2 linked regions of the Homo sapiens genome follow. The protein of the gene in region 1 purifies or fractionates together with the protein of each later gene. This does not show direct contact. Each region holds a gene or a part of one and is shown on either strand. Other genes may lie near its edges. The genes, in order: ULBP1 and THEM4.

What was found.
Region 2: the proteins of ULBP1 (region 1) and THEM4 purify together in Homo sapiens (affinity purification with mass spectrometry; one large-scale study listed by BioGRID and IntAct). This does not show direct contact.

Annotation. Positions count from the first base shown.
Region 1 is NC_000006.12:149,962,626-149,966,923, forward strand, and holds the start of ULBP1 (UL16-binding protein 1 isoform 1 precursor), read left to right. Parts: upstream 1-1,317; 5' UTR 1,318-1,424; coding exon 1,425-1,509; exon of another isoform or gene 1,510-2,857; intron 2,858-4,298. UniProt on the Homo sapiens protein: Binds and activates the KLRK1/NKG2D receptor, mediating natural killer cell cytotoxicity.
Region 2 is NC_000001.11:151,895,714-151,899,520, reverse strand, and holds part of THEM4 (acyl-coenzyme A thioesterase THEM4), read left to right. Parts: intron 1-3,807. UniProt on the Homo sapiens protein: Has acyl-CoA thioesterase activity towards medium and long-chain (C14 to C18) fatty acyl-CoA substrates, and probably plays a role in mitochondrial fatty acid metabolism. Plays a role in the apoptotic process, possibly via its regulation of AKT1 activity.

The sequences.
Region 1 (4,298 bases):
CACCCGGCCTCAGGGGTGGTGCTGCCAGGGACTTCCCAGTGGCCTCCTCCTAGGACTAACCTGAGCTCCTGCCCCCAGCCCTGTACATGGGAGGCTTTTCTCACACACAGATCCCTGGGCCCACCAAGCTATTCCCCTCCCAAATCTGAGAACTGCCCACCCCCGTGTGACTGTTGTCCTGCCGACCACCCTTCATGTAGCCCCTCCTGGACAGAGGCTCTAGTGCATCAGGCCAGAACCTTTTGGCTCCTGTGTCCCTGCTCAGTCACAGAGATGGCTGCCATCCCATGTCCCTGTCCTGAAGCATAGTCAGGCCCTGGGCTTGGTCCAGGCCTCCTCCCCTTTCCCACAGCCTCAGGACCCTGGTGATTGATGGTCACCAGGTGAAGGTCTCCCCACATGAAGACTGTGTGGAGTGGGAGGTCTGTGCCTATTTTTCTCATTCATTGGGGAATGGGCTGAGTGGCTGGGGGCAAAGTGGGACTCAGGGGCTCTGCCCAGTCCTTACTGCAGGCTAAGCCCTCCCTTGCGGCCAAGAGCCACTGGGCCCTCCACCTCCCTCTGGCTTCTACCCGCAGATCTAGATGGTTTCATGGTGACTCAGAGGAGGATGCACTCGGGCGTCCCTTTTGAGGATGGCTGCAGGGACCATCCAGGGACTGAGCCGAGGTGCAGATACAGCCACGGATTTGGGTGTTGTTAGACACAGAAGGGTGTGTAGCAAAGTGAGCCCCACGCATGCGTAGACTCTTCCCTCGGCTTCTGCTCTCCATGGAAACACAACTGATCACATCATGATTGATCACGGTAGCCCTCTAGGGCTTTCTTTCTTTTCTTTTTTTTTTTTTCCAGAAGTCATAAAGGGATATAGAATATACTCAAAGACCACCTCATGCTTTTAGTGGAGAGGCAAAAAAGGTTCGCTCCGGAATGGGGAAGCGGCTGCGCCCTGGACGGAGAGGGGCGGGGACTTCGCGACTGCAGGCGGAGGGAGGGCGGGTGTCGCTGGCGCAGGCGGTGACAGGGAGACACCGCCGCCACTGAGTATTCCTATGCAAGTTTCTTCATCTTCCTGTGCATCAGTGTTTACACTGGGGTAATGATAAATGCTGTGTTGAAAAATTATTTGATGGGGCCATGGAAGGAACGGAAGGAACGGCGTCCTGGCCCGCTCGGGGCCCGCGCACGCCGCCACCAAGCCGCGGGGGCGGGTCGGAGGGGAGAGTTGCGTCAGCCAGGCCGCTGTCAGATGACGAGCCCGGGGCGTGACGGGGTGGAGCATCCCCAAAAAAGTGCATGCCTAGGATCCCGCCCAGTGTATCCCTGCGCGCGGCGGGCCGGGCTGGGCAGCTTTATAAACAGCCGTGGTGTGAGCCTCGAAGGGAACCATCAGCGCCTCCTGTCCACGGAGCTCCAGGTCTACAATGGCAGCGGCCGCCAGCCCCGCGTTCCTTCTGTGCCTCCCGCTTCTGCACCTGCTGTCTGGCTGGTCCCGGGCAGGATGGGTCGGTGAGTTCGGGGATGTAGCCTAAGCAGGGCGGGGGCCAAACCTGGGAGGTTGTGGACTGCAGCGGGTTTCAGAGGAGGGGAGGCTTCTGGAAGGACCGGCGCGATCTCCCTGAACGAACATCGCGGTCTCCCCGAACGTCGCGGTCCCTCCGAACGTCGCGGTCTCCCCGAACATCGCGGTGCCCCCGAACATCGCTGTCTCCCCGAACATCGCGATCTCCCCGAACATCGTGATCTCCCCAGACATGCCCAGCTGAAGGCACTCAGTTCCCCTCGGTGGCTCCTTTCCGCCGGGTCCGCTTCCTGCGGCTGCTGCTTGCCCCTCAGGCCAGGAGGTTTCTGGAAGGACCGGTGCTGTCTCCCCGAACATCGTGGTCTCCCCGAACATCGCGGCCTCTCCGAACATCGCCCTCTCTCCGAGCAACGCGATCTCCCCGAACATCGCGGTCTCCCCGAAAATCGCGATCTCCCCGAACATTGCCATCTCACCGAACATCGCGATCTCGCCGAACATGCCCGGCTGAAGGCACTCAGTTCCCCTCCGCGGCTCCTTTCCGCCGGGTCTGATTCCTGCGGCTGCTGCTTGCCCCGCAGGCCAGGAGGCTTCTGGTAGCACCGGCGCGATGCCCCCGAACATCGCGTTCTACCCCAACATCGCGATCCCTCCGAACATCGTGATCCCCCCCGAACATCGCCGTCCCCCCGAGTAACGCGGTCTCCCCGAACATCGCGGTCCCCCCGAACATCGCGGTACCCCCGAACATCGCCGTCTCCCCGTACATTGCGATCCCCCGAAACATTGCGATCTCCCCGAACATCGCGATCTCGCCGAACATGCCCGGCTGAAGGCACTCAGTTCCCCTCCGCGGCTCCTTTCCTCCGGGTCCGCTTCCTGCGGCTGCTGCTTGCCCCATAGGCCAGGAGGCTTCTGGGTGGACCAGCGCGATCTCCCCGAATATCGCGGTCTACCCGAACATCGCGGCCTCCCCGAACATCGCGGTCTCCCCGAACATCGCGATCCCCCAGAACATCGCGGCCTCCCCGAACATCGCGGTCTCCCCGAACATCGCGATCCCCCAGAACATCGCGGTCTACCCGAACATCGCGGCCTCCCCGAACATCGCGGTCTCCCCGAACATCGCGATCCCCCAGAACATCGCGGTCTCCCCGAACATCGCTGTCTCCCCGAACGTGCCTGGCTGAAGGCACTCAGTTCCCCTCCGGGGCTCCTTTCCGCCGAGTCCGCTTCCTGCAGCTGCTGCTAGCACCGCAGTCCAGGGGGAGTGTCAAAGAAGGCTGAAAAGGAATTGCAGGAGGGTGGAGGGACCAAAAGGCTACAGAGGGCAAGGTAGGGCGGGGATCCCTGGTGCAGACCCGCAGCCCCACTGGCCCTAGGGAAGGAGAAACCAGATTCCCGAACCCTAGCTGGGGTCAGGACAGGGGTAAAGGGGAGTTCCACAGGGACGCGATCACAGACTCCCCCATCAGCCACAGCCCTGCTCTGCTCTGACCTGCTGTTCACCACACAAAGCTTCCAGCAGCCCCAGGGCTCCCTGCCCTGGAACTTCGCCCCTACACTTTGCTGCAGACACTCACCTGCACGCAGGGGCTCACCAGACACTTGCTACCCTTCCCCTCACCATTCACTTTCACCACCCAGGTCGCATCCTTTCACTCCCCATCTCAGCTCACCCCTGTCACCACACAGGCCTCCCTCACCTCCCCATCCATGAAGGGGCCCTTAGCACCTCCCCCGACCAACTAGCACCTTGTCCCCTTTTGCCTGAGGACACACCCCAGCAAACACACCCCAGGCTTTCCACAAAACTTAATGCAGGGGGGACGGGAAATCCCATTTCCCTCACGATGACCCTGGGAGCGCCGGTGAGTAGAGGTGCCCACTTCTGCCCTTGGGTCCCAGACCCGCCTGTTCTTCCGACTGGGGAGCCAGGGTCATATAGAATAGTCACTAAGCAGACAGGAGTCAGCAAACCCTTTCTAGAAAGGAAAGGCTGAAGGCACTTTGGTCCTTGCTGGCCGTGAGTTCTCTGTCTGTGTGTCAAGTCCTGTCCCTTTGTAGAGCAACAGCAGGCAATGGTAACCTGCAAATAAAAGGGAGAGCAGATGTGGACCCTGTCCTAGGTTGCTGACCCCAGATGAGGGCACATGCTGTGTCCTGGCAATTGCTGCCCCATCCCCTAGGGTGTCATCTCCAAGTAGTGTAAGTTGAAGAGTCACAAGTGTGTCCTACCCTGCCTGTGGCTTCTGGGTGGTGTGGATGTGATGGATGTGAATGGAGGTCCTATGGTTCTGGGCCTACTGCGCCCCTCCTTTGCTGCTGGGTGGCATCATAGGTCCCTCAGGGCAATCAGGGACCCTCCTTAAAGCCTCAGGTGTGAGCTAAGGGTGAGGGGGTGCAGCCATGTAGTGTCCTGGGGATCGGGGCCAACTGCTTGTGCAGCTTCTTGGTTCCCTGTGGCCCTGCTCCTGCCCATCCCAGGAGACCCACCTGTGTCTTCTCACTGTGGGGCCTATATTCCTAATGACCTAAAGGGTGAGGAGCCCACCCTGTGATGGGCAGCTCTGAGGCTGTGTGGTCACTGCCCTCCCATAGCTGGAGGCCCATCTCCACAGGGGCCCAGGACCACAGCAGGAGCCACTTTTAAATGAGGGGATTTCACTGCTGTGAGTGGCACAGCCTTGCTTCTGAGCACTAGGGGATCCTGTTGTGATTCTGCGGTTGGCAATTGCCATGAAATCCACATAGCACCTTTTCCAACCACATATGC
Region 2 (3,807 bases), on another chromosome or scaffold:
TTCCTTGAATATTTCTCCCTTCTTTTTTTTTTTTTTTTGACTCACTCTGTCGCCCAGGCTGGAGTGCAGTGGCACAATCTTGGCTCACTGCAACCTCCACCTCCCAGCTTCAAGCAATTCTCCTGCCTCAGCCTCCCGAGTAGCTGGAACTACAGGCGTGTGCCACCATGCCCAGCTAATTTTTGTATTTTTAGTAGAGATGGGGTTTCACCATGTTGGCCAGGATGGTCTCAATCTCTTGACCTTGTGATCTGCCCACCTTGGCCTCGCAAAGTGCTGGGATTACAGGCGTGAGTCACCACACCTGGCCCTCCCTTCACTTCTTGTATCATTTTTTGGATTTCCTTGCATTGGGCTTTGCCTTTCTCTGGTATCTCCCTGATTGCCTTAATAGCTAACCTCCTGAATTCTTTTTCAGATAAATCAGGGATTTCTTCTTGGTTTGAATCCATTGCTGGTGAACTAGTGTGATTTTTGGGGGGTGTCGACAAGCCTTGTTTTGTCATATTACCTGGGTAGGTTTTCTGGTTCCTTCTCATTTGGGTAGGTAGACTCTGTCAAAGGGAAGGTCTAGGGCTGAAGGCTGTTGTTCAGATTTTTGTGTTCCACAGGGTGTTCTGCTGATGTAGTACTCTCCCCCTTTTCCTGTGGATGTGGCTTCCTGTGAGCTGAACTACAGTGATTGTTTTCTCTCTTCTGGGTCTAGCCACCCAGTGAGTCTGCCCAGCTCTGGGTTGGTACTAGGAGTTGTCTGCACAGAGTCCTGTGATGTGAGCTGTCTATGGGTCTCCCAGCCATGAATACCAGTGCCTTTTCTGGTGGAGGTGGCAGAGGGTGCAGTGGACTCTGTGAGGGTTCTTAGCTTTGGTTTAATGCTCTACTTTTGTGCTGGTTGGCCTCCTGCCAAGAGGTGGCACTTTCCAGAAAGCATCAGCTGTAGCAGTATGGTGAGGGACCGGTGGTGGGCGGGGCCCTAGAACTCCCAAGATTATATGCCCTTTGTCTTCTGCTACCAGGGTGGATAGGGAAGGACCATCACCTGGGGCTGGGGCTAGGCACATCTGAGCTCAGACTCTCCTTGGGGGGATCTTGCTGCAGCTTCTGTGGGGGATGGCAGTGAGATTCCCGGGTCACTGGAGTTGTGTACCTAGAAGAATTATGGCTGCCTCTGCTGAGTCATACAGGTTGTCAGGGAAGTTGGGGAAAGCCGGCAGTCACAGGCCTCACCCAGCTCCCATGCAAACCGAAGGGCCGGTCTCACTCCCACCATGCCCTTCCAACATCCCCGTGTCTGTTTCCAGGTGGAGGGCAAGACGGGCTTGAAAACTTGTCTGAGGCTTTCCACCTCCCAGCTGCAAAAGAAAAGGGCTTTAGTTCTTCCCCGACCTGTGAAGTCTGCAAGCCGGGTTCATGCCCTCCCCGAGTTCTGGCCAGGAAGCTTCTCCCCAGTTCAAACTGTTACAAAGTTCAGCCGCAGAATTTCTTCTCCCTGTGGAATTTTACCCCCTGCTCCTTTGGCCACCCTCCTGATGAATCCCTGTGGTGCCAGGCAGGTATGGGCTGCTTGGGGACCCAGTGAGCTCCCAGGGCCTTTCTGCTGCTTCCCTTACCCTGTATTTCGCTCAGCTTAGCTCTCTAACTTGACTCAGCTCCAGGTAAAGTCAGAAATTTCTCCTGCAGACAGACCAGCTTCTCCAGTAGGGGTGTGTGTTCAGGAGAGGAGGGTCTTTCTTTCCCAATTCCACAGTTGGGGCACTCACAGTATTTGGGATGTCTCCCGGTCCTGCAGGAGTAGTCCGCTTCCTTCAGAGGGTCTGTGGGTCCTCTTGGGATTGCTGGTTCTTGCAGTCAATCTTGAACTAAAATTCACAATACAAGCCTCCACATGCTCAGCTAATACGATTTTGAAGAAAGTTGGAGGAATCACTCTGCCCAATCCAACACGTATTATGTTCCTACAATAATTAAGAACGATCACAAGGTCCCACAATAGGCTGTCTGCAAGCTGAGGAGCAAGGAGAGCCAGTCAGAGTCCCAAAACTGAAGAACCTGGAGTCCGATGTTCGAGGGCAGGAAGCATCCAGCATGGAAGAAAGATATAGGTTGGGAGGCCAGGCTGTCTCTTCTTCCATAGAGTTTTTGAGACAGGTTCTCTGTATTCTTCCCACCAAGCCAGCATTGGAGCCAGCCCCTGTCAGCAGAAAGCTGGTTCTCCCATCATACTGTGACCTCCCCGTTTTGGTTTTATGGTGCAGTGTGTGTATTGTAGGTACATTAAATCTGAATGAATTGATAAGGGTGGCTGAAAGTAGAATGCCATGGAGTTAATAGCTTCTGTGATCCTACATGTTCCAAGATAACTGCAGCAGTCCAAAAAGCCAGTTTCCTTTCTGGTGTTTGTGGGCATACACTTTGTTCTGCTCCTGAGTAAGTCACACTTTGTCTTCCAGGTCCTCTAGGATCCCTGCAATGTTCCATTTGTTGCCTGGGCATTGGAGTAATAGCAGTGCTTGGTGCTACAGAAATAGATGGATGGAAGTTGTGGTTACTGTGACACCAAAAACTTGTCCCCTGAGCTCCCTACTCCTCTTTCTCCTATATTTTTTGGTAATTGGCTCTGTCATTCACCTCACTGCAGGATTCAGAATCCTGGTACTGGGTCTTGTATTTCTCTTTTTCCCTTACCCTCCTTATCCAAATTGTCACCAAGTTCTGCTTCATGCTCTCATGATTTCTCACCTGAGTTACCCTAGTAGCTTCCAAATAGGGCCCTCTGATTTCAACCTTGGACACTCCCACTATCTTTTATATTATGGAAAGATCTAATCATGTTACCCCCCATTTAAAATCCCTCAGAGAGCACTGCAGATACAATTCAAGCCAGTTAGCTTAGTGTTAAGGTTTTACATGCATTTCTGCAGCCATCTGCCCCTATTCTTGCACCCTAATAATGCCAAACTTCTTTTAGGCCTTAATTTCATCATCTGCAAAATGAGGATAATAAATAGTACCTACTTCATATGATTGTAATAAGGCCCCTCAAAACTGTTTCATGCCTCTTTTGCCCACTGCATTAGGCTGTTCTCACATTGCTATAAAGAAATGCCTGAGGCTGCGTAATTTATAAAGAAAAGAAGTTTAATTGACTCACATTTCTACAGGCTATACAGGAAGCATGATGGTGGCATCTGCTTGGCTGCTGGGGAGGGCTCAGAAAACTTACAGTCAGCCGGGCACAGTGGCTCACTCCTGTAATCCCAGCACTTGGGGAGGCCGAGGTGGGCAGATCACCTAAGGTCAGAAGTTCGAGACCAGCCTGTCCAACATGGTGAAACCTCATCCCTACTAAAAATACAAAAATTAGCCGGGTGTGGTGGGGCGGCACCTGTAACTCCAGCTACTCAGAAGGCTGAGGCAGGAGAATCACTTGAACCCAGGAGGTGGAGGTTGCAGTGAGCCAAGATTGCGCCACTGCACTCCAGCCTGGACAACAGAGTGGGACTCTGTCTCAAAAAAAAAAAAAAAAAAAAAAGGAAGCAAGAAAACTTACAGTCATGGCAGAAGGCAAAGCAGGAGCAGGCACTTCACATGGACACAGCAAGAGCAAGAGTGCAAGGCACAAGGTACTATACACTTTTAAACAACCAGATCTCATGAGAACTCACTATCATGAGGACAGTACCGAGGAGGATGGTGCTAAACCGTCCATGAGAAATTCACCCCCATGATCCATTCACCTCCCACCAGGGCCCACCTCCAACTTTGGGGATTACATTTCAATATGAGATTTGAGCGGGAACACACATC